2 separate regions of the Homo sapiens genome follow, and region 2 is linked to region 1. The links come from fine-mapping of genetic effects on gene expression. Tissue or cell type: unexposed skin. Region 1 holds a variant in brackets; the other region holds the start of a gene. All regions are shown on one strand. Distances are between the middles of the regions.

Region 1 (8,106 bases):
TGTCTCAAAAAAGAAAAAAAAAAAAGACTTTTAGAAGGAAACACAGGAGTAAATCATCATGACCTGGGTTACACAATGATTTCTTATATATGACACCAAAAGCATAAGCAACGAAAGAAAAACAGATAAATCAAACATAATCAAAATTCAAACACTTTGTGTCTCAAAAGACTCCATTAAGAAACTAAAAGGACAATCATAGAATGGGAGAAGATACTGAAAATCCTATGGCTGTAAGGAACTGATATTTAGAATGTATAAGGAACTGTTACAACTCAATAATAAAAAAGATAACCTAATTAAAAATGGGCAAAGGATCTGAAGAGACATTTCTCCAAATAATGCACACAAATGGCCAACAAGCACATAAGAAGACGTTTAACATCCTTAGTTGTTAGAAAACCGCAAATCAAAAGCGCAATGAAATGAGATACCACCTCACACCCACTAGGATAGCTAGAATCAAAAAGACATACAATAACAAGTTTGGTGTGGATGTGGGGAAACTGGAGCCCTCACTTACTGCTGGTAAGAAGGAGAAATGGTGCTGCCACTATCTGGTAGTTCCTCAAAAGCTAAATGTGCTGTTATGATCCAGTAATTGCATTTCTAGCTATACAATCAAAAGAAATGAAAACCAGCATCTACACAAAAACCCGCACATGAAAGCTCATAGAGGCTGGGCATGGTGGCTCACCTCTAATCCCAGTGCTTTGGGAAGTCAAAGCAGGAGGATCACTTGAGCTCAGGAGTTCAAGACCAGACTAGGCAACACAGTGAGACCCCATCTCTACAAAAAATTTAAAAATTAGTCAGGCATGGTGGTTTGTGCCTGTGGTCCTAGCTACTTGGGAGGCTGGGGAGGGAGGATTGTCTGAGCCCAGAAGATTGAGGCTGCAATAAGCCATAATCCTGCCACTGCACTCCAGTTGGGTGACAGAGTGAGACCTTGTCTCCAAAAAAAAAAAAAAAAAAAAAAACAAGAAAAAGAAGTTCTCAGCAACTTCATAGTAGTGAAAAGGTAGAAATAACCCAAATGTCTATCATCTGATGGATGGATAAATACAATGTAACATATCCATGTAATGCAATATTATTCAGCAATAAACAGAACAAAACAGTGATACCTGTGTGAATCTTGAAAATTATGCTAAGTGGCCTGGCACGGTAGCTCACGCCTGTAATCCTGGCACTTTGGAAGCCCAAGGCAGGCGGATTACCTGAGGTCAGGAGTTTGAGACCAGCCCGGCCAACATGGTGAAACCTTGTCTCTACTATAAATACAAAAATTAGCCGGGCGTGGTGGTGGGTGCCTGTAATCCCAGCTACTCTGGAGACTGAGGCACAAGAATTGCTTGAACCCGGGAGGGAGAAGTTGCAGTAAGCTGAGATCACGCCACTGCCCTCTAGCCTGGGTGACAGAGCAAGGCTCCATCTTAAGAAAAATAAAAGGAAAATTATGCTAAGTGAAAATTATGCTTTGTGAAAGCCAGTCACAAAGGGCCACATATGGTATGATCTACTCATATGAAATGCCCAGAGCAGGCAAATCTACAGGGTCAGAAAGCAGAGTGGTGGCTGCATACGGTTGAGGGAGGGAAGAATGAAGGGTGGCTGATAATGGGCTGGCATTTATATTTGTTCTAAATTTGATTGTGACTGTACAACTCTGTGAATGTGCTGAAAGCATTGACTTTTACACTTCAAATGGGTGAACTGTATGGTTATGTGAAAAAAAAGCTTCTACCAAAATAAGATGAGAATTTACTATGAAAAACCTTATGTCAAAAAATCAGAAAATTTTGGCTGGGCGCAGTGGCTCACACCTGCAATCCCAGCACTTTCGGAGGCTGAGGCGGGTGGATTGCTTGAGCTCAGGAGTTTGAGACGAACCCGGGCAACTTGGTGACACCCCATCTCTACCAAAAATATAAAAATTAGCCAGGTGTGGTGGCATGCACCTATAGTTTCAGCTAATGGGGAGGCTGAGGTGGGAGGATTGCTTGAGTCCAGGAGGCTGAGGCCAAAACAGTGGTTTTTAACATTTTTATTACTTTTCACTGTTGTAGTGTTATTTTTTCTTTCTGAACATTTTTGACCCAAGGTTGGTTCATGGAGGTGGAACCCAAGAACACTGAGGGCCAACTGTATGAGACTTCTGTCAATTCTCCTGTCATGATCCATAGGATTGTTCATATCCTGATTAAAATCCTCACTGTGGGATGGGAAAAGCTGATTCTAAAATGAATATGAAACTACAGTGGGGAAGAATAGCCAAGGAAGTCTAGGAGACAGAAAGACGTGCTTTCTCATACACGGTAGATGACTACAAAGCTACAGAGTGGTGCTGGGATACCGACAGCAACTGACACTGGGTTAGAGCAGAGCAGAAACACAGCCACACATGCATTGTCACGTGACCAGCTACAAAGGTGGCAGCGTGAGGGTTGGACGGAATTGTTTCAAAAATGAATTTCAGGTGAATTTCGCATCTCAGTGTGAAAGCAGAGTGAAGTATCCAGAAAGCAATGCAGAATACCTTCACGACCTGAGAGTATGCAAAGATTTCTCAAACAGCACAGGAAAAGCACAGCTATGAAAGAAAAGATACCAGTTGATGCTGGAATGAAGAGCTGCCCATGGAAAGGCTCACGAGGGGAGTGCAGCGCCTGCCTCACAGGAGAGCAAGACAGCTCTTCTCTCTCAGCAGGGGCCACATCTCTTTCACCTCCCTTCCCCGCACCCGACACTGCTCTCCATCCAGACGCAGGTCCAGGAGTCCAGATTCGCACCCAGGGAGCTTCAGTGCAGACCCAGGACCGACAACCACTGTTTCTCTAATGCGTTCTACTCTGACTACTCTGCCAGATGGAAAGGGGTGCCCACACAGAAGCAATGAGTAAACAGGCAGTTTTGTTCATGTTTTTGCTTTTGACAGAGAAGATGGTGTGAAGCTAGAGCGACATGAGGAAGAGCGAGCGGCCGAGCATCCTCACCTCCACTAGGGCAAACTTCTCCTCGCTGGTGTAGTTGTAGCGCGTGGCACGCTCGTACTCTTCAGCGCTGTCGGGGCAGTCCTTGTTGGAGTACTTGTCGGTGGGGTGCACAAGCTTCCAGGAATACTGTGGTGGCCGAAAGAGCAGAGGTGTTCCATATTGCATGCAAAACGCCTGGCTTCTGGTCTGACTCACACGATGGTGGCCAAAGCCAGGCCAGCCTTCAAACCTTTGCTGCATTCTGAAAGTCACACATGAGGGCGCACACACCGTCCATCTCCACAGATGGGCAAAAGACCCTGGCCCTGTAACCTCTCGTTTAAAAAATCTACCCGGCAAAATGGCCTGGATAGTGAG[T/C]GCTGAGTATCTAAGACTCTGGCATTTCATCATCATTTTAAAAAGGATTCTGGGCCAGGCACAGTGGCTCATGCCTATGACCCCAGCACTTGGGAGGTTGAGGCAGGAGGATCACTTGAGCCCAAGAGTTCAAGATCAGCCTGAGCAATATAGTGAGGCCTCATCTCTACAAAAAATAAAATAATAAGTAAGTAAATAAAGATTTTGCCTTTCAAATGACCATGTACTCTTCCAATTTGATAATTTTTATGTGATCAAAATAAATCACAAAAGGGAAAATCTTTCATTGCTTACAGGTATCCAAATCTTTATATGGCACCAGAAATAATTTACTAATGTTCAACAAAAGACATTGATGGCTGGAGCTCCAAAGAGAAAATGTTATCTTAAAAATGCAGGGCGTGAAGCGACATTAATGGGTACAAATGTACAGTCTGATATTAGAAATAAGACAGTGTTAGATAGATCAGTTAGGGTGACTATTAATTAAAATAATTTATGGTACATTTCAGAATAGATAGGGAAGAACTCGAATTTTTCTGGCATAAGGACAAATATTTATGGCGATGGACATCCCAAGCACACCAATTAGATCTTTGCAAACTGTATGACTGTATTAAATTATCACATGTATCCTGAAACTATGTACCCCTATTATGCATCAATACAAGTAAATATTTAAAGCAAAATAAAATTTAAATGAAAAAATGAGACTTGGCCAGGTACAGTGGCTCACGCCTGTAATCCCAGCACTTTGGAAGGCCCAGGCAGGCAGATGGCTTGAGGCCAGGAGTTTGAGACCAGCCTGGCCCACACGGCGAGACTGTCTGTACAAAAAAAACCAAAAAACAAAAAACTAGGCCAGGTGCGGTGGCTCAAGCCTGTAATCCTAGCACTTTGGGAGACTGAGGCGGGTAGTTCACCTGAGGTCAGGAGTTCAAGACCAGTGTGGCCAACATGGTGAAATACCATCTCTACTAAAAACACAAAAAAATTAGCCAGAAGTGGTGGTGGGCGCCTGTAATCCCAGCTAACTCAGGAGGCTGAGGCAGGAGAATCGCTTGAACCCAGGAGGCAGAGGTTGCAGTGAGCCGAGATCACGCCATTGCACTCCAGCCTGGGCAACAAGAGCGAAACTCCGTCTCAAAAAAAAAAAAAAAAAAAAAAAATTAGCCGGGAGCCGTGGTGCACACCTGTGGTCCCAGCAACTTGGGAGGCTGAGGCAGAAGGATCGCTTGGGGTGGGGAGTCAAGGCTGTAGGGACTTATGTTTGCACCACCGCACTCCAGCCTAAGCGACAGGGTGAGACTATCTCAAAAAAAGAACGACTTAAAGAAAATCACAATGGTACAAATTTAATTCTATCAAGATTTTTTTTAAAAAGGAGGCCCTTCATTTATTACACACATAAATGAGATGTACTTAAAATCACCTTGGAAACATATCTACTGATAGATATTCTCGTCTTTCTAGGGCCAAAGATAAAAAGCCCAAAGACCAAAAGTTAATGTGAATAAAGTGCCCGAGGCAGCTTTGGAGCGGGGCTGGGGTCGGGGACGGGGCCTACCACTTCCATCACGTGCGCGCTCCACTGCGACAACAGCTGCAGGCCCTGCAGCGCCAGGTCGAAGAGCTTGCGGTACTCCGCGTCCGTCTTCTGGGCCTCCTGGCGGCCCGAGCCCGTGACCACCTGCACAAGGCGGGCACGGCCCCGTGAGAAACCAGCGCCCCCACCCAGCTCCCCCCATCCCGGGATCCACCATGAGAATCCACCCCAAAGTCACACGTGTGAAAATAAGAAATGCAGGAGGCCAAGGCGGGCGGATCACAAGGTCGGGAGATCCAGACCATCCTAAAACGGTGAAACCCCGTCTCTACTGAAAAATACAAAAAAATTAGCTGGGCATGGTGGCGGGCACCTGTAGTCCCAGCTACTTCAGAGGCTGAGGCAGGAGAATGGCGTGAGCCCGGGAGGCGGAGCTTGCAGTGAGCCGACACTGCGCCACTGCACTCCAGCCTGGGCGACAGAGCGAGACTCCGTCTCAAAAAATAATAAATAAATAAATAAATAAATAAATAAATAAATAAATAAATAAAAAGAAAATAAGAAATGCTGTGGGTGCTGGACCCTCCTCCCGGGAAAATGGCGGCCAAGGGCGTGCTGCAGAGCACAGAGCAAGGGACAGGCCGCTGCCACAGCCACCGCCTGGGGGACCGCGGGCTGGGCGCGGGGCTGTTACACGCGTGGGCTTGGCGCACTTCCACTAGGCCGGGGAAGGGCAACACACAAGTCACGTGGGTTTGCTTCTATCAAATAACCACCCCCTAAATTTAAACATGTGACCTATGGGGAGGAAGGGGCACCGTGGAGAAGGCAGGCTTCTTTGAATATACCTTTTTATAGATGTGATATTAGAACCACACAAATATTTTATATATTTAGGACACAGAATTAAATGAGATCGGAAATGCAATGCCTAGAAGTCAAAAGCAAAATGAAACAATGGCGGGAACCTGCATGGAGCTCACAGCATGACCACTGAGAGGACCCTGAGCAGCTCTAAACACCACGGTGTGACTTAAAATCCTCTGAGTGAGGGGCCCGGTGCGATGGCTCATGCTGTAATCCCAGCACTTTGGGAGGCCGGGGCAGGTGGATTGCCTGAGGTCAGGAGTTCGAGATCAGCCTGGCCAACATAGTGAAACCCCATCTCTACCAAAAATATAAAAAAGTAGCTGGGCGTGGTGCTGCATGCCTGTAATCTCAGCTACTCGGGAAGCTGAGGCAGGAGAATTGCTAGAACCCAGGAGGCGAAGATTGCAGTGAGCCAAGATCCCGCCATCACACGCCATCCAGCCTGGGCAACAAGAGCGAAACTCCATCTCAAAAAAAAAAAAAAAAGTACCCTGAGTAAGAAGCTCAAGGGCAAAATCACCTGCAAAACAAATCATAAAACAATTTCTAGTCACTGTAATTAGTAGTGCTGGCATTGCTCTTTTAAGACTAGATTATGACCGGGTGCAATGGCTCATGCCTGTAATCCCAAAACTCTGGGAGGCTGAGGTGGGCGAATCACAAGGTCAAGAGATGGAGATCATCCTGGCCAACATGGTGAAACCCCGTCTCTACTAAAAATACAAAAATTAGCTAAGCATGGTGGCGTGCGCCTGTAGTCCCAGCTACTTGGGAGGCTGAGGCAGGAGAATTGCTTGAATCCGGGAGGTGGAAGTTGCAATGAGCCAAGATCACACCATTGCACTCCAGCCTGGGCAACAGAGAGAGACTCTGTCTCAAAAAAAAAAAAAAAAAAAAAAGGCCAGGCACGGTGGCTCACGCCTGTAATCCCAGCACTTTGGGAGGCCGAGACGGGCGGATCACGAGGTCAGGAGATCAAGACCATCCTGGCTAACACAGTGAAACCCCATCTCTACTAAAAATACAAAAAAATTAGCCGGGCGTGGTGGCGGGCGCCTGTAGTCCCAGCTACTCAGAAGGCTGAGGCAGGAGAATGGCGTGAACCTGGGAGGCGGAGCTTGCAGTGAGCCGAGATCGCGCCACTGCACTCCAGCCTGGGCAACAGAGCAAGACTCCACCTCAAAAACAAACAAAAAAAAGACTAGATTATGACATAATGACATAAATCAAATTATGCTGGCGTCATTCACCAGGATGTTCAGCTTTCAGAAAAAAGAAAATCAACAAACCTAAAGTCGAATCACTTTAAAATTGTACTCAGAGGCCGGGTGCGGTGGCTCATGCCTGTAATCCCAGCACTTTGGGAGGCCGAGACGGGTGGATCACCAGGTCAGGAGATTGAGACCATCCTGGCTAGAACAGTGTCTCTACTAAAAAAACACACAAAAAACACACACAAAAAAAAACACAAAAAAACACACACACAAAAATTAGCCGGGCGTAGTGGTGGGTGCCTGTAGTCCCAGCTACTCGGGAGGCTGAGGAAGGAGAATGGTGTGAACCTTGGCTTGCAGTGAGCCGAGATTGCACCACTGCACTCCAGCCTGGGCGACACAGCAAGACTCCGTCTCACCCAAAAAAAAAAAAAAAAAAAAAAACTGTACTCCGAAAAAAACTGATTTGTTACCTTAGACAATGCCAGAGAAACAATTACAGTCAGATGCCACCTAAGGATGCTCCAGTCAACAAGACCACACACATGATGGTGCTCCCATAAAATCTTAACGTAGTGGAAAAATTCCTACTGCCTAGTGATGTCCTGATGATCCTGACCCCGTGTAGGCCTAGGCTAATGTGTGTGTTTGGGTCTTCATTTTTAACGAAAAAGCTCAAAAGGAAAAAAACAAAAACTTTTTGGTAGAAAAATAATTTACAGAATAAGGAGATAAAGAAAAAATATTTTTGCACAGGTATAGAGTGTGTTTGTGTTTTAAGCAAAGTGTTGTTACAAAAGCCAAAAAGCTCTTTTTAAAAGTAAAAAGTTTATAAAGTAAAAAAGTTACAGTAAGCTAAGGCTAATTCGTTATTAAAGAAAGAAAAAGCCTTTTAAAAAATTTAGCACAGCCTAAGCACACAGTGTTCATAAAGGCCACAGCAGTGCACAGTACTGTCCTAGGCCTCCCACTCGCTCGCCACTCACTCACTGACTCACCCAGGACAGCCTCCTTGTCTGACATGCCCAAACGCTTGCCAGGGGTCTGTGTTAGAAGCAGCAGGTGCCCCAACATACCTGGACTACTGGGTTGTCAGTCAGTTTGGTTACATGATGATGACTGG
Region 2 (8,106 bases), 110 kb after region 1:
GACCTCTGCCATAACAAACACATCCAAGATGCCACACAGCAAGAGAAAAGGATAACCAATCCCACCTTGTGTAAGTGGGTGGGGGCTGTGGACACAGAGGGGATAGTGAAGCAGACAAGACTGCACAGCCTTACTGATTCCCTCAACAAACATGCACTGTCCACTGTGCTCTAGGTGTCCGGGAACAAATCAGACACAGAGCCCTATGCCTGTAAAATGTGCCTTTTAAAGGGGGAGACAAGAAAGGAACTATAAAGAATTGAAATACATAGCATGTGTGGAGACAGTGCCTGAGTTTAATATTAAAACGTGAGCTTCCTCAGGCAGGAGAAAGGGAAAGAACTATGTAGGCACAAGATGTGTCACAGCAGAGCTAGGGAATGTGGTCCCACCGTGTTCAGGGAACCCACAGCTGTTTCCATACGCTTGCCATCCTTGGTTTGACCTCTAGGGGGCTACAGACTCAGCAGCTAAGGTCAGCCATGTGGGCTCTGCTTGCTTATGTGACCCACCCCCAATAAAAATGCTGGTCACCAAGGCTCAGCCGAGTGGCCCTGGGGGGAGTGGAGGGTAATACTTTGCACATGTTGTCATATACTGTTACTGAGAGAATTAACTGCATCCCCAGGTGACTCCACTAGGAAGGAACATTTGGACATGCGTGCCTAGCTTCTCCTAGACTTTGCTCTAAGCACCTTTTCCCTTTGGTGATTTTAATCTGTATCCTTTCACTGTAATAAACTATTAACAGTGAGGATAACAGCTTTTTTTTTTTAAGTTCTGTGAATCCTTTGAGCAAATCATTATGCCAAAAGGTGGTCTTGGGGAATCCCCCAAACAATATGAAAGTATACCAGGCATCTAGTAAGCATCTACAGACAGTCACTGCCAAGTGCTGAGAAACCATTTGAAAGTTTTGAGATACCCAAACAATGCTACTATTTGTATCAATCTCTGATCTCTCTTTCCTTAGTAGGACTGAGGTGAAAAAATGATTAAAAACAAGCTCTTTCTTTCATCACAAACTGAGGCATATCTGGTTTGATGGCAATATTTAAGTAAATTTCCAAGAGATCCCGTTAGCCAGTAGATAATACTAAAATAGAATGTTTAAACAGTAACTGAAACAAATTGACGATAATCAGATAGGAAACAGTAAAATACACAGTGGAGATCTCATAATTGAAGGCATACCTTTATTTCCTTTATACTGGGAAGTGGTGCATTTAGAAATTCCTCCGTTAATCTCTTCCAACTAGCAGCTTTGCTTAGATCAGAATGAATGACAAATTTTTCATAAATTCTAAAATATAAGAAAAGATTATAAAGCTATCTTAAAAAGATCTATAAGAAAATACATATATTTCTGGATGCGTATATATACACACTGACTTACCCTTCGATTGTTTTTTCTATTTTGTGGCTGTTGACATCCAAGAAACGATGAAATCTATTAAAGACAAAATGCAATTCTTATGCCAACTCTGTCACACAGGTAAGTGAACTCATCTCATGGCCCTCCATATCCCCCATATGCTCTGTACTCAGCTACACATTTCCAGAATGGAGTGTACCTTGTCCTCCGTTACCTCCACCATCAGGCAGGCAAATAATCACCGTGTCCGAGACTGTGCAAGCATCCTTTCTCCAGCACACAGGTTCTTCCTGACCCTCCCAACCTTGTCCTCTGGCTCCTCTGTCTTCCCATAAGCCCCTGTACCTAAGTCCAGCTGAACACATTCTACATCAGGTGGTCCCAACCTTTTTATGCCATAGTGAGGCCCGGTGAAGCCTAAGGACCCCTTCTCTGAATAACATTTTTAAAGCCAAAAAATAAATACAAAGGAATCCCATTATACTGAGATACAGTTGTCAAATATTTAAAGAAGTTTAAGATATGGCAAGAAATGTTATTTATGAAAGTATTAAATAACAAGATTTAGCAGTAGGTCCAATTAACTACCATTAAAGTAACAGTAAACAACATTTACAAATATCTACAACTCTGATGTGAAAACAGTATGCGATTTCTACTGGTGATAAAGTCATAGGTAGGCTAATACTGCTATGGTTTGCTGCCTTCATTCATAATAGAAGGAGATGCTACTTTTCAGTTAGAGAAAAGTGAGCTTGCTCAGTGCAAGCTCCGCCTCCTGGGTTCGCGCCATTCTCCTGCCTCAGCCTCCCAAGTAGCTGGGACTACAGGCGCCTGCCACCACGCCCGGCTAATTTTTTGTACTTTTAGTAGAGACCGGGTTTCACCGTGTTAGCCAGGATAGTCTCGATCTCCTGACCTCGTGATCCACCCACCTCGGCCTCCTAAAGTGCTGGGATTACAGGCGTGAGCCACCGCGCCCAGTCCACAATTTTCAAGAATGTAAACATGAACTATTCATTTTTCTGATGGTTTAAAGCATCATAAAATTACAGCACAGCCTATGCAACTAATGTATATGTACATAGCATAGCCTATGCAAAAAATGTTTTCCATTTTTTAGTATCAAAGCGAGCAATCTGTACTTAAATAAAATTACACTACTGAAAAACACATGATTCTAGGCCAGTAAATGGGTGAATGGAACACCACTTTACCTATTATAATTTAGTTCCTGAAATCTGTGAATGAAAATAGTAACCTCCAACGTCTCTCCCAGCTCTAAAATGATGACAATCTGCCTACTGTCATTTAGAAATATTAGTAGAAAAATAACTTGGATTTCAGCATTTAAGTTTCTGTATTGTATAACCTATTTCACACATTGTTTATTTTTATAAGTTACACTTAAGAATTCAGTTTATTACTTCAGAAACTTGGCATGGTTTAAAAGAATCTGAAAGCCCCGTATTCCTATTATAAGCCAACTAGACACTTTATGGCTATGATCATTAAGGTAACTAAGATTACGGATTTTGAAAAACTGTTCATTATTCAAGAAGATTTTTACTGAAATTAAACAGGTAGAATATTAACATTAACATTTTTTTAGTAATAATTTCATTATGGGTAATGACTCTAAAAGTATTAATTTACATCTCCCATAAAGAAAAATAGGAGATCTCACTTTACGTAAATATCTAAATTCTGTAAGTCTTTAAAAATTAGTTACAAGAGAAACTGCATTAGAAATTGTATTAGGTGACTCAGCGTGCTACGTGCCAGGAGCTGTGCAGAGATGCAGCATTCTAGCTGGAGTGGAAGTGGAGGAGACAGTAATGACAGGTTAAATCAGTGTCATGACACGCGTTTTGGAAAAAGGAGAGCAGGGTGAGAGATCTTACACTGGGCTGACCAGGGAGCAGGAGTCAGTGAGAATACAATCTCTTTAATTTAAAAAAAAAAAAAATTATAAACATGGAGTTGCTACGTTGCCCAAGCTGGCCTGGAGTCCCGCCTGGGCCTCCCAGAGCGCTGGGGTTGCAGGCGCGCGCGCCGGCCGGCAAGAAACCCAGTTCACGCTTTCCCCGTGACGATCAGGACGCGTCCCGGGTAACACGCCCTGTGGTGCGCAGGGCACCGCGCCGAGAGCGCTGGCCGGCGGGGAGCAGGCGGTGGCAGGGCCTGCGAAGGCTCCCTGAGGCCGCGCCCGCCTCCGCCCCATGCCCTGCCCCAGCGCGCCCCGACCCCGGGCTGTGCGGGACCCACGCGCGGGCTCCGGGCTGTGGCCGGGAACCCGCCCGCGCGCCGTGCCCCACACCTGAAGTTGGACCAGGCGAAGTTTAGGGCGAGCTGGAAGTTGGGGTCTGCCTCGTCCTGGAGGCCGGCGACACCCCGGACGAGCTCCCGCACGTCGCGCTCCTGCTGCGCGTCCAACCGACTCCACGGTGGCCCGTGCCGCGCCATGTTCCGCGCTCCTGCAGCGCGCGTCTAACGAATTGGTGCCTGTCGCGCGAGAGCTCGGGCTCCTGCCGCAGTCGCCTCCGGAGCTGGCGGCATTCTCGCGAGAGTTCGCGCTCCCGCGCCGGGCGACTTCCAAGCCGACCGCTATTCTCGCGACAGTTCGAGCTCCGGCTGTGGAGGGTACTGCCTGGCGCTGTCCCGTGGTGGGGACTGGAGTGCGCATTTTCTGGTTGCCCGACGGTACGTTTTCTACTGTACTCAGAGTTAGCTGGTGTCATCGTGAATCAGATACATAAGGGTCTCTGGCCGGCCTCGGTGACAGTCAGTGATTTTGAGAGCAGCCCGTTAGGTGCCCGGTCAGCAAATGCATTGGGACCCGCCTTTCCAGGAACCCTGAACTGCTTACCTGCTGAACCCTCCCGGCCCTGCAGCTTCTCCCTCCAGTGATGGTCTCTGCGGATTTCCGTGCCCCATCCACACAACACAGTCACGCTACACACATCCATGCTACACAACCAGCATCAGCGAAGCAGCTGTCCCGACCCGCTAGTAGTGCCTGCTGGCCCTTGCCTCGCCTGTTCCTCAGGGGCGGCTTGGGGGACTTCATGACCCCACCTGGCCAGAGGTGCTGAGGGGGGGAACTTCATAAATGTCACCTGGCCAGAGGTGGTGGGGGAGATTTCATAACCCCACCTAGCCAGAGGTGCTGGGGGGACTTCATAACCACACCTAGCCAGAGGTGCCGGGAGGACTTCATAACCACACCTGGACAGAGGTGCTGGGGGGACATCATAACCTCACCTGCTCAGAGGTGCTAGGGGGTATCATAATCCCACCTGGCCAGAGGTGCTGTGGGGCCATCATAACCCAACCTGGCCAGAGGTGCTGGGGGGACATCTTAACCTCACCTGGCCAGAGGTGCTAGGGGGATATCATAATCCCACCTGGCCAGAGATTCTGGGGGGACATCATAACCCCAGCTGGCCGGAGGTGCCGGGGGGCGGGGGGAACTTCATAACCCCACCTGGCCAGAGGTGCTGGGGGGACATCATAACCTCACCTGGCCAGAGGTGCTAGGGGGTATCATAATCCCACCTGGCCAGAGATGCTGGGGGGCCATCATAACCCCACCTGGCCAGAGGTGCTGTGGGGCCATCATAACCCCACCTGGCCGGAGGTGCTGGGGGGCGGGGGGAACTTCGTAACCCCACCTGGCCAGAGGTGCTGGGGGTGACTTCATAAATGTCACCTGGCCAGAGGTGCTGGGGGGGATTTCATAACCCCACCTGACCAGGGGTGCTGGGGGGACATCATAACCTCACCTGGCCAGAGGTGCTGGGGGGTATCATAATCTGACCTGGCCAGAGATGCTGGGGGGACATCATAACCCCACCTGGCCAGAGGTGTTGTGGGGCCATCATAACCCCAGCTGGCCGGAGGTGCTGGGGGGCGGGGGGAACTTCTTAACCCCACCTGGCCAGAGGTGCTGGGGGTGACTTCATAAATGTCACCTGGCCAGAGGTGCTGGGGGGGATTTCATAACCCCACCTGGCCAGAGGTGCTGGGGGGACATCATAACCTCACCTGGCCAGAGGTGCTGGGGGGTATCATAATCCCACCTGGCCAGAGATGCTGGGGGGACATCATAACCCCACTTGGCCAGAGGTGCTGTGGGGCCATCATAACCCCAGCTGGCCGGAGGTGCTGGGGAGCGGGGGGAACTTCATAACCCCACCCGGCCAGAGGTGCTGGGGGTGACTTCATAAATGTCACCTGGCCAGAGGTGCTGGGGGGATTTCATAACCCAACCTGGCCAGAGGTGCTGGGGGGACATCTTAACCTCACCTGGCCAGAGGTGCTAGGGGGATATCATAATCCCACCTGGCCAGAGATGCTGGGGGGACATCATAACCCCACCTGGCCGGAGGTGCTGGGGGGCGGGGGGAACTTCATAACCCCACCTGGCCAGAGGTGCTGGTGGTGACTTCATAAATGTCACCTGGCCAGAGGTGCTGGGGGGGATTTCATAACCACAGCTGGCCATAGGTGCTGGGGGAGATTTCATAACCCCACCTGGCCAGAGGTGCTGGGGGGACTTCATAACCACACCTGGCCAGAGGTGCCAGGAGGACTTCATAACCACACCTGGCCAGAGGTGCTGGGGGGACATCATAACCTCACCTGGCCAGAGGTGCTGTGGGGGGGTATTATAACCCCACCTGGCCAGAGGTGCTGGGGGGTATCATAATCCTACCTCGACAGAGGTGCTGTGGGGCCATCATAACCCCAGCTGGCAGGAGGTCCTGGTGGGCCATCATAACCCCACCTGGCCAGAGGTGCTGGGCGGCGGGGGGAACTTCTTAACCCCACCTGGCCAGAGGTGCTGGGGGTGACTTCAAAATGTCACCTGGCGAGAGGTGCTGGGGGGGATTTCATAACCCCACCTGGCCAGAGGTGCCGGGGGGACTTCATAACCCCACCTGGCCAGAGGTGCCGGGAGGACTTCATAACCACACCTGGCCAGAGGTGCCGGGGGGGCATCATAACCACACCTGGCCAGAGGTGCCGGTGGGACTTCATAACCCCACCTGGCCAGAGGTGCCGGGGGGACTTCATAACCACACCTGGCCAGAGGTACCGGGGGGACATCATAACCACACCTGGCCAGAGGTGCCGGGGGGACATCATAACCTCACCTGGCCAGAGGTGCTGGGGGTGGGTATTATATCCCCACCTGGCCAGAGGTGCTGGGGGGGACGTCATAACCACACTTGGCCAGAGGTGCCGGTGGGACTTCATAACCCCACCTGGCCAGAGGTGCTGGGGGACATCATAACCCCACCTGGCCAGAGGTGCCAGGGGGGACATCATAACCCCACCTGGCCAGAGGTGCTGGGGGACATCATAATCCCACCTGGCCAGAGGTGCTCTGGGGCCATCATAACCCCACTTGGCCGGAGGTGCTGGGGGGCGGGGGGAACTTCATAACCCCACCTGGCCAGAGGTGCTGGGGGTGACTTCATAACTGTCACCTGGCCAGAGGTGCTGGGGGGGATTTCATAACCCCACCTGGCCAGAGGTGCTGCGGGGGACTTCATAACCACACCTGGCCAGAGGTGCCGGGAGGACTTCATAACCCCACCTGGCCAGAGGTGCTGGGGGACATCATAACCTCACCTGGCCAGAGGTGCTGGGGGGTATCATAATCCCACCTGGCCAGAGATGCTGGGGGGACATCATAACCCCACCTGGCCAGAGGTGCTGTGGGGCCATCATAACCCCAGCTGGCCGGAGGTGCTGGGGGCAGGGGGAATTTCATAACCCTACCCGGACAGAGGTGCTAGGGGTGACTTCATAAATGTCACCTGGCCAGAGGTGCTGGAGGGGATTTCATAACCCCACCTGGCCAGAGGTGCTGGGGGGGACTTCATAACCCCACCTGGCCAGAGGTCCTGGGGGACTTCATAACCCCACCTGGCCAGAGGTGCTGGGGGGACATCATAACTTCACCTGGCCAGAGGTGCTGGGGGGTATCATAATCCCACCTGGCCAGAGATGCTGGGGGGACATCATAACCCCACCTGCCAGAGGTGCTGGGGGGCGGGGGGAACTTCATAACCCCACCTGGCCAGAGGTGCTGGGGGTGACTTCATAAATGTCACCTGGCCAGAGGTGCTGGGGGGATTTCATAACCCAACCTGGCCAGAGGTGCTGGGGGGACATCATAACCTCACCTGGCCAGAGGTGCTAGGGGGATATCATAATCCCACCTGGCCAGAGATGCTGGGGGGACATCATAACCCCACCTGGCCGGAGGTGCTGGGGGGCGGGGGGAACTTCCTAACCCTACCTGGCCGGAGGTGCTGGGGGTGACTTCATAAATGTCACCAGGCCAGAGGTGCTGGGGGGGATTTCATAACCACAGCTGGCCAGAGGTGCTGGGGGAGATTTCATAACCCCACCTGGCCAGAGGTGCTAGTGGGACTTCATAATCACACCTGGCCAGAGGTGCCAGGAGGACTTCATAACCACACCTGGCCAGAGGTGCTGGGGGGACATCATAACCTCACCTGGCCAGAGGTGCTGTGGGGGGGTATTATAACCCCACCTGGCCAGAGGTGCTGGGGGGGTCATAATCCCACTTGGCCAGAGGTGCTGTGGGGCCATCATAACCCCAGCTGGCCGGAGGTGCCGGGGGGCGGGGGGAACTTCATAACCCCACCTGGCCAGAGTTGCTGGGGGTGACTTCATAAATGTCACCTGGCCAG

What was found. PIP is the estimated chance that this variant, and not a neighbour inherited with it, causes the effect.
Region 2: TUBGCP5 starts here. The variant in region 1 is fine-mapped to the expression of TUBGCP5 in unexposed skin (GTEx, PIP 0.96).

The regions. Positions count from the first base shown.
Region 1 is chr15:22,922,986-22,931,091 of GRCh38, forward strand. CYFIP1 (cytoplasmic FMR1 interacting protein 1) reads right to left here. Exons shown (of 31, transcript NM_014608.6): 12 at 4,921-5,043; 13 at 2,997-3,122. Among named protein-coding and RNA genes, the nearest start is that of CYFIP1, 53 kb to the right of the region's middle. The variant T/C (reference allele first, on the strand shown) is at 3,354.
Region 2 is chr15:23,035,703-23,043,808 of GRCh38, forward strand. TUBGCP5 (tubulin gamma complex component 5) reads right to left here and starts at 3,867. Exons shown (of 23, transcript NM_052903.6): 1 at 3,696-3,867; 2 at 1,397-1,450; 3 at 1,195-1,303. The coding sequence starts at 3,841.